3 separate regions of the Homo sapiens genome follow, and regions 1 and 2 are each linked to region 3. Evidence: fine-mapped expression QTL. A gene starts in region 3. Each other region holds a variant in brackets. All regions are shown on one strand. Distances are between the middles of the regions. Region 1 has its middle 12 kb from the start of LAMC1-AS1. Region 2 overlaps SHCBP1L (SHC binding and spindle associated 1 like). Region 3 holds the start of NPL (N-acetylneuraminate pyruvate lyase).

Evidence for each region. PIP is the estimated chance that this variant, and not a neighbour inherited with it, causes the effect.
Region 1: its variant is fine-mapped to the expression of NPL in whole blood (INTERVAL, PIP above 0.99).
Region 2: its variant is fine-mapped to the expression of NPL in whole blood (INTERVAL, PIP above 0.99).

What each region holds. Positions count from the first base shown.
Region 1 is chr1:183,151,935-183,154,702 of GRCh38, forward strand. No RefSeq gene overlaps it. Among named protein-coding and RNA genes, the nearest start is that of LAMC1-AS1, 12 kb to the left of the region's middle. The variant A/AT (reference allele first, on the strand shown) is at 1,411.
Region 2 is chr1:182,934,485-182,937,252 of GRCh38, forward strand. All of the region lies in intron 5 of SHCBP1L (SHC binding and spindle associated 1 like), which reads right to left. Among named protein-coding and RNA genes, the nearest start is that of SHCBP1L, 17 kb to the right of the region's middle. The variant T/G (reference allele first, on the strand shown) is at 1,651.
Region 3 is chr1:182,788,262-182,791,029 of GRCh38, forward strand. NPL (N-acetylneuraminate pyruvate lyase) reads left to right here and starts at 1,512. Exons shown (of 13, transcript NM_030769.3): 1 at 1,512-1,544. RefSeq lists an enhancer at 1,165-1,665.

The DNA of each region.
Region 1 (2,768 bases), 360 kb after region 3:
GCTGAGCGCGGTGGCTCACTCCTATAATCCCAGCACTTGGAGAGGCTGAGGTGGGTGGATCACCTGAGGTTAGGAGTTTGAGACCAACCTGGCCAACATGGGGAAACCCCATCTCTACTAAAATTACAAAAATTATCCAGGCGTAGTGGTGTGTGCCTGTAGCCCCGGCTACTCGGAAGTCTGAGACAGGAGAATTGCTTGAACCCGGGAGGCTGAGGGCAGTGAGCTGAGATCATGCCACTGCACGCCAGCCTGCACGACAGAGCAAGACTCCATCTCAAAAGAAAAAAAAAAAAGAAGAGGAAGACAGAAAAAGACATCAGAGTGATGCAATGTAAGAAGGACTCTGCACCATTGCTGGTTTGAAGGAGGAGGAAGGGGGCACGAGCCAAGGAATGTGGGGCAGCCTCTAGGAGCTGGGAAGGGCAAGGGAATGGGTCTTCCCCAGAGCCTCCAGATAGAATGCAGCTCTGCTGACACCACGATTTTAGCGCAGAGATCCCCATCTGACTTTTAACCCACAGAACCATAAAATAATAAATGTATGTTCTTTTTTTTTTTTTCGAGACAGAGTTTCACTCTTGTTGCCCAGGCTGGAGTGCAGTGGTGTGATCTCAGCTCACGGCAACCTCTGCCTCTCAAGTTCAAGCGATTCTCCTGCCTCAGCCTCCCAGGTAGCTGGGATTACAGGTGCATACCACCATGCCTGGCTAGTTTTTGTATTTTTAGTACAGACGGGGTTTTGCCATGTTGGCCAGGCTGGTCTCGAACTCCTGACCTCGGGTGATCCACCTGCCTCGGCCTCCCAAAGTGCTGGGATTACAGGATTGAGCTACCACATCTGGCCCTTTGTGTTCTTTTAAGCCACTAAATTTTAGGTAATTTGTTATGACTGCCGTAGAAAACTAATATACCATTTGCCTCGATAATATCTTTTATAGCAAAAGAAGATCCAAGATCATGTGTTGTGTTCAGCTGTCTTGTCTCCTTTGTTTCTTTTAGCTCCTGATCTTTCTTTGCATTTCATGACATTGACATTTTTTTAGAATAAGGGTAGTTATTTTGAAGAATGAGCCTCGATTTTCTTTGTCTGATGTTTTCTTTTGATTAGATTCAGATTATAAGCTTTTGGCAGGGAGATCACAGAAGTGATGCTGAATTCTTTTTAATAATACATTGACTGAATCAGGAGGCACATAAGTCATTACTGGCAATGTTAACTTTGAGATTTGATTAGGGTCGTGTCTTCCAGGTCTCCATTGTAAAGTTACTCTGTTACCTTTTGTAATAAATGTGTATTTTGTGAGAAGATATTCTGAGACTATATAAATATCCTGTTACTCCCCACATTTTTGTCCACCAGTTTTTGTATCCAGTGATGATGGCTACTAAATGGAGATTTTCTAATAC[A/AT]TTTTTTGTTGTTGCTGTTTTGTTTTGTTTTGTTTTTGAGATAGAGTCTGTCGCCCAGGCTGGAGTGCAGTGGCATAATCTCGGCTCACTGCAACCTCTGCCTCCCGATTTCAAGCATTTCTCTGCTTCCGCCTCCCAAGTAGCTGGGATTACAGGCGCCCACCCCCACGCCTGGCTAATTTTTGTATTTTCAGTAGAGACGGGGTTTCGCCATCTTGGCCAGGCTGGTCTTGAACTCCTGACCTGGTGATCCACCCGCCTCGGCCCCCTAAAGTGCTGGGATTACAAGTATGAGCCACAACGCCCAGCCTATATGTCATATATTAATTGGCATTATGCTGGAGGTAAAGCTTTTGCTTCTCCCTTATTCATTTACTTACATATTTATATTATTTTAGATTCATGGGGTCTTATTTTATTTAATGGGGTACAACATATTGTTCTTGATTTTTATTTTGATTTCTAATTGTCCCGTATTTGACCAGTGGGAGCACTTTTTATTTTGTTTTTAATTGACACATAATAATTGTACATTATTTGTGGGGTAGAGAGGGAAGTTTCGATACATGTGTACAATGTATGATGATCAAATCATGGTGTTCAGCATATTCATCACCTCAAACATTCATCATTTCTTTGTGGTGAGAACATTCAGCCCCCTCTTTTCTAGTTATTTAGATATTTAGAAATATACACTATAATATAATTTACTAGAGTCACCCTATTGTGCTATAGAACACCAGAACCTACTCTCATCTAACTGTAATTTTGTACTCTTAACCAATCTCTCCCCATCTGCCCCTCTTCTCTCCTCTCCCCAGATTCTGGTAACCACAATTCTACTCTATACTTCTGTGAGATTATCTTTTTTAGATTCCACAAATGAGTGAGATCATACTGTATTTGTCTTTCTTTACCTGGCTTATTTCATTTAACACAGTGTCCTCCAGCTTCATCCATGTTGCCAAAAACGACAAGATTTCATTAGTTTTATGACTGAGTAGTATTCCATTGTGTATATACTGTATACCACATTTTATTTATCATTTCATTCATTGCTGGATACTTTGGTTAATTCCATATCTTGGCTATTGTGAATAGTACTGCAATAAACATGGAAGTACAGATTTGTCTTTGACATACTGATTTTATTTCCTTAAAGTATAGCCCCAGGAGTGAGATTGCTGGATTATGTGGTAGTTCTATTTTCAGCTTTTGAGGAATCTCCATGCTGTTTTCCATAATGGCTATACCAATTTACGTTCCTGCCAGCAGTATGTAAGGATTCCTTTTTCTCCACATCCGCAACATCATTTGTTACGTTTTTGCCCTTTTGATAATTGCCATTCTAATTGGGG
Region 2 (2,768 bases), 150 kb after region 3:
CTTCTTCGGTAAGGTGTCTATTCAGATCTTTGCCCATTTTTAATTGGGTTGTTTGTTATGTTTGAGTTTTATGAGCTCTTTGTATATTTTAGATACAAGTCTATCAGATATGCATTATGCAAATATTTTCTCCTAATCTGTGGCTAGTTTCTTCATTCTCTTAATAGTGTATTTTTCAGAGCAGTTTTCAATTTTAACAAAGTCCAACTTATGACTTTTTTCTCTCACATAACATACAGTATTGTTGTGGTACCTAAAAACCCACTGCCAAACACAAGATTATCTATAATTTCCTATGAGTCTTATAGTTTTGAGTTTTATGTTTAGGTTTATGGACCACTTTGAGTTAATTTTTGTGAAAGGTCTGTATCTAGGTTCACGTTTTTGGATATAGATATTCAATTATTCCAGCACCATTTGTTGAAGAGAATATCCTTTTTCTATTACATTTCTTTTGCCCTTTGTCAAGTCAGTCTACTCTATGTGTGGATCTTATGGACTCTCTAATCTGGACTATATAAGGACTCTATTTATGGACTCTATTTCCTTTCACTGTTCTATCTGTCTCTTCCATTAATCTATTCTTTGACTTATACCATACTGTCTTGATTACTACAGCTTCATAGTAAGTCTTAAAATCGAGTAGTATGAGTCCTTCTACTTTTTGGCTATTCTAGGTTTCCTGCCTTTCCACATGAGTTTTAGAAACAGTTTGCCAATATCTACAAAATATTTTGCTATGAATTTCACTGGGATTGCACTGGATCTACAGATCAAGTTGGGAAGAACTGACATTTTTAAAATATTGGGTCTTCCAATCCAAGAACATAAGATATCTCTCCATTTATTGTCATCAGTGTATTGTAGCTTTCTGCATTATAGGTCCTATATTTTGTTAGGTATATACCTAAGTATTTCACATTTTTGGTTCTATTGTCAATAATTTTTAAAATTTAAAATAAATTGCTCACTGCTGGTATATAAAAAAGCAGTTGATTTTTGAATATTAACCTTGCTTCCTGTAAACTTGCTATACTCATTTATCGGTTTCAGGAGTTTTGTTCCTTTTTGATTCTTTGGGATTTTCTACATAGACAATTATGTCATCTGCAAATAAAGATAGATTTATTTCTTCTTTTCCAGTTTGTAGGCCTTTTGTTTCTTTTTCTTGTCTTATTGCATTATTTAGAACTTCTAGTATGAAGGTGAATAGGAATGGTAAGGAATTGTTACATCTTCCTGGAGAACCAAACCCTTTATCATCATGAAATGTCCCTTTTTGTCCTGATAATTGTCCTAGTTCTTAAAGGCTGCTTCATCTGAAATTAATATAGCCACACCAGATTTTTATTAATTAGCATGAGCATGAAATATCTTTCTCCATCCCTTTACTTTGAACATATCTGAACCTTTATAAAGTGGGTTTCTTACAGATCACATATAGTTGGATATTGTTTTCTTAAATCCATTTTCATAATCTCTGCTTTTTTATTTAGACCATTTACATTTACAGTTATTTTGACATAATTAACATTTACCATATTGTAGCTGGTTTCTATTAATACAGAGGTTGCACTTGTCCTTTGTTTCCTTTTTCCCTTTCTTTTCTGCCTCTTCTAGTGTTTTGGTTGCTTTTTTGTTTTTTGTTTT[T/G]TTTTTTTTTTTTTTTTTTGAGACAGAGTCTTATTCTGTCACCCAGGCTGGAGTGCAGTGGCATGATCTCAGCTTACTGCAACCTCCACCTCACAGGTTCAAGTGATTCTCGTGTCTCAGCCTCCTGAGTAGCTGGGATTACAGGCATGCACCGCCACAACTGGCTAATTTTTTTATTTTTAGTAGAGATGGGGTTTCACCATGTTGGCCAGGCTGGTCTGGACTCCTGACCTCAGGTGATCCACCCACCTTGGCCTCCCAAAATGCTGGGATTACAGGTATGAGCCACCACACCCAGACCTGCCTCTTCTAGTTTTAATTTAGCATTTTATTTTGTTCCATTGTATCTACTCTCTTAAATCAATTATACTTCTTTTTTTAAAAAATTAATATTTGCCCTAGAGATTGCAACATATATTTTTAACTAATTTAAGTCCACTTTCAAATAACACTATACTACTTCACATGTCATGCAGATACCATATAACAGAGTATTCCAATTCTATCCTCCCATCTTTTATGATATTGTTTCATTTATTTCAGTAATCCATGAGCTTTAATTACCTAATGAATCATTACCACTATTATGTTAAATAGCTATCTTTTAGATCAATCAACAATAAGAAAAATAGAGGCTGGACACAGTGGGTCACACCTGTAATCTCAGCACTTTGGAGGTCGAGGTGGGAGGATCACTTGAGCCCAGGAGTTTGAGATCAGCAAGGGCAATATAGTGAGACCCTGCCTCCACAAAAATAAAAATAAAAAAATTAGCCAGGCATGGTGGCACACACCTGTGGTCCCAGCTGCTCAGAAGACTGAAGTGAGAGGATCACTTGAGCCTGGGAAGTCGAGGCTGCAGTGAGCCATGATCACGTCACTGCACTCCAGCCTGGGTGACAGGGCAAGACCCTGTCTCAGAAAAATAAATAAATAAAATAATAATAATAATGATAATAAAATAATTTATTTTACCTTTATTCCTTCTCCCACATTGTTCCTTACTATATGTAGACATGAGTTTTTCTCATTTTTCTTTTCCCTGAAGAACTTCCTTTAACCTTTCTTGCAGAACAGGCCTACTAATGATAAACTCTCAGTTTTGTTTGTTTTGTTTT
Region 3 (2,768 bases):
CTTCTTGGTAGACACTAACAAATTATTATAAGGAATTACTTTGCACTACCATATTTATACAAAAAGTAGTTAGTTCATGCATTTAGAATATTGGTTTGTTGGTTGACAATGTTAAGCCTAATGACCTATACCTTTTGGGTACTGACATACTTAATTTTGCACTTATTAAACTGTGACTTTCCAAAAAAAAAAAAAACTTTCATTGTACCATTAGGATATAATATTCTTGTTAATATTACAAAAACCAAACCAAAACAAAAACCATGCTGCAGCCTTAGGAGAACTTGCTTCATGTAACTAAGGGTTTTTCTTTTTCTTTTCTTTTTGTATTTTTTTTTCCTGTAGGATAACATAGTGTTAAAAGCACAAGCTTCTGGACTACTTGAAATCAAACCACAGCTTAACCAGCTCTATGGCTTTTGGCAAATTACTTCAACTCTTTAAACCTGTTTCTGATCTGTAAAATGGAATGATCCTTGCTCATCTGTAATATATACATTTATAAAACAGGACCCACCAATGGGATTATTTTATGAATTAAATGTTAAAACAGCTAGAACGGTGCAGGCTGAGTAAGCACTGAACACAGTACTTATTAGCTATTATCTCTGGTGCTCTGTGCAACGAAAGAACTATTAGAATACATTTAAAAGCACTTTGCAAACTAGAAAGCCCTTTGAACAATTTAGTTTCTCTAAATGTAATAATAAGCATCAGCCATCGCCTTTTATGGAAAATTGAGGTGGAATCACATCAGCAAGAGAAAACTGAGGACTTGTCTCTGGCTCTGTTCCTGATTTATTCACACAGTACATGATCCTAGAATAAGACTCCTGATACTCCTGAAAGTAGAGGCGGTTGGGTTAAAAATAATTTTCCCTTTCAAAACTCTTTCAAATGTTCTCCAAAAGAAGCCAGGAAAGCTCCCGTATGAGTAGATAATTCACTTTAAAATTCGCTCATCTCTCTTTAACACGAGAGTCTGCAGGGCTGGTGCAGCGGCGTCAACCCGAAGAGACCTGAACGCCGATGGGCAGTTGGGATTCTCCGTACGCCTCGGAAACAGCAGCCCAAACCTCACAACGCAGAACCACGAGATAGTGGGGATTGCAGAGCCCTGCGCAAGAGAAGGAAAATTAAGACGCAGCGGAGCCCAGGAGGTGCCCGCACGCGGGAAGGACTGGCGTGCAGACGAGGCAGGGGGAGGTTTGCACTCGGCGTGGCGCGGGTGAGCCGCGTGCTCTCGGGCACCCGGCCGCCAGTTCGGATGCTTCCGATCCTCGGGGAGCCGGGGCGCTGCGCCGGAGTCACTTCAGCCCATGTTGTTCAGGTGACACCCGGGGAAGAGCAGACTCCAGTGTGCAAAACGTTTCGGGGTTTCCGGGCCAGCGGTTCCGGGCGCGCCTCGCGGGCGGCGGCGCAGAACTACAACCCCCAGGCTCCCTGGCGTGGCGGCACGTGGGCCCGAGCCGGGCGGCCGCGGATATAAAGCGCGGCGGCGGCTGCCGGGCGGAGCGGCTGCACGGACAAGAGCGGAGGCCTGGGTGAGCGCGGCCCGCGACGGCACGGGCTAGGACAGACGGACGCAGACGGCCCGACGACCTGGGCGTTCGGGCGGAGGGGCGCTGGGGCCTGACTCGCGGGTGGGTGAGACGTTGACGGACCCGGAGGAAAGAGGGAAGGCAGATACGCTGGGAAACGGATCTGGGGAAGGTGTGAATGCGAAAAGTGTAGGGACAGACGGGGGCAGAAGAACTTACTCCCCCGGATTGTTTGCAGACAGCATATCTGCCGGGTCTCCAAAGGTCCTTTCCTCAAAATAGAGTTAGCAATTGAGCAGAAGAGAGCTTAAAGTTAAACCTGATACATCCCCCCTTCACTTGAGGAGAAATTGGTGGTTTTCTGCTTTTTTAAAAATCCCTATTTGTATCTCCTCTTCTCCGAGTACCTGTCCCTCAAGATATTCTCTGCCCAGAGGTACATTCTGCCCTCACTTTCTGTCTCTTAAAAAAACAACTTTGCCATTTAAAAAAGAATTTGACTTAGGCAGCTTTAATTCTTTGCACTGAGTGTTCTTATCTGTGGATGGAGGTATAAGATTTCAAGAGTAATACCCCCTCCCAATGTTTCAGTAATAATCTAAATTCACATTAAGCCTTAGGCTGGAGAACATTTGAGCTATTCGCTTTAGCTACGAGCTCTGAAAACTTCAAAGCATAACATTCCCAAGTTTATCTAAAACTTGAATCTTAAAAATAATGATAATTATCTGTTATGCTTCAAAGCATAACATTCCCAAGTTTATTAAAAACTTGAATCTTAAAAATACTGATCATTCTCTGTTAAAGTCTTTTGTTGTTGTTGTTGTTGTTGTTGTTGTTGTTGTTGTTGTTGTTTTTGAGACGGAGTCTCGCTCTTGTCGCCCAGGCCGGACTGCAGTGGCGCTATCTCGGCTCACTGCAAGCTCCACCTCCCAGGTTCACGCCATTCTCCTGCCTCAGCCTCCCGAGTAGCTGGGACTACAGGCTCCCGCCACCACGCCCGGCTAATTTTGTATTTTTAGTAGAGACGGGGTTTGGCCATGTTGGCCAGGCTGGTCTCGAACTCCTGACCTCAGGTGATCCGCCCACCTCGGCCTCCCAAAGTGCTGGGATTACAGGCTTGAGCCACCGCGCCCGGCCAAAGTCGTTTTTATCCCATTTCTTCCTGTAGGCGTTTCAAAGTTTGCAAAGGCAGCAAACTTTTACGTAGTGTAGTTATCTGTGCAA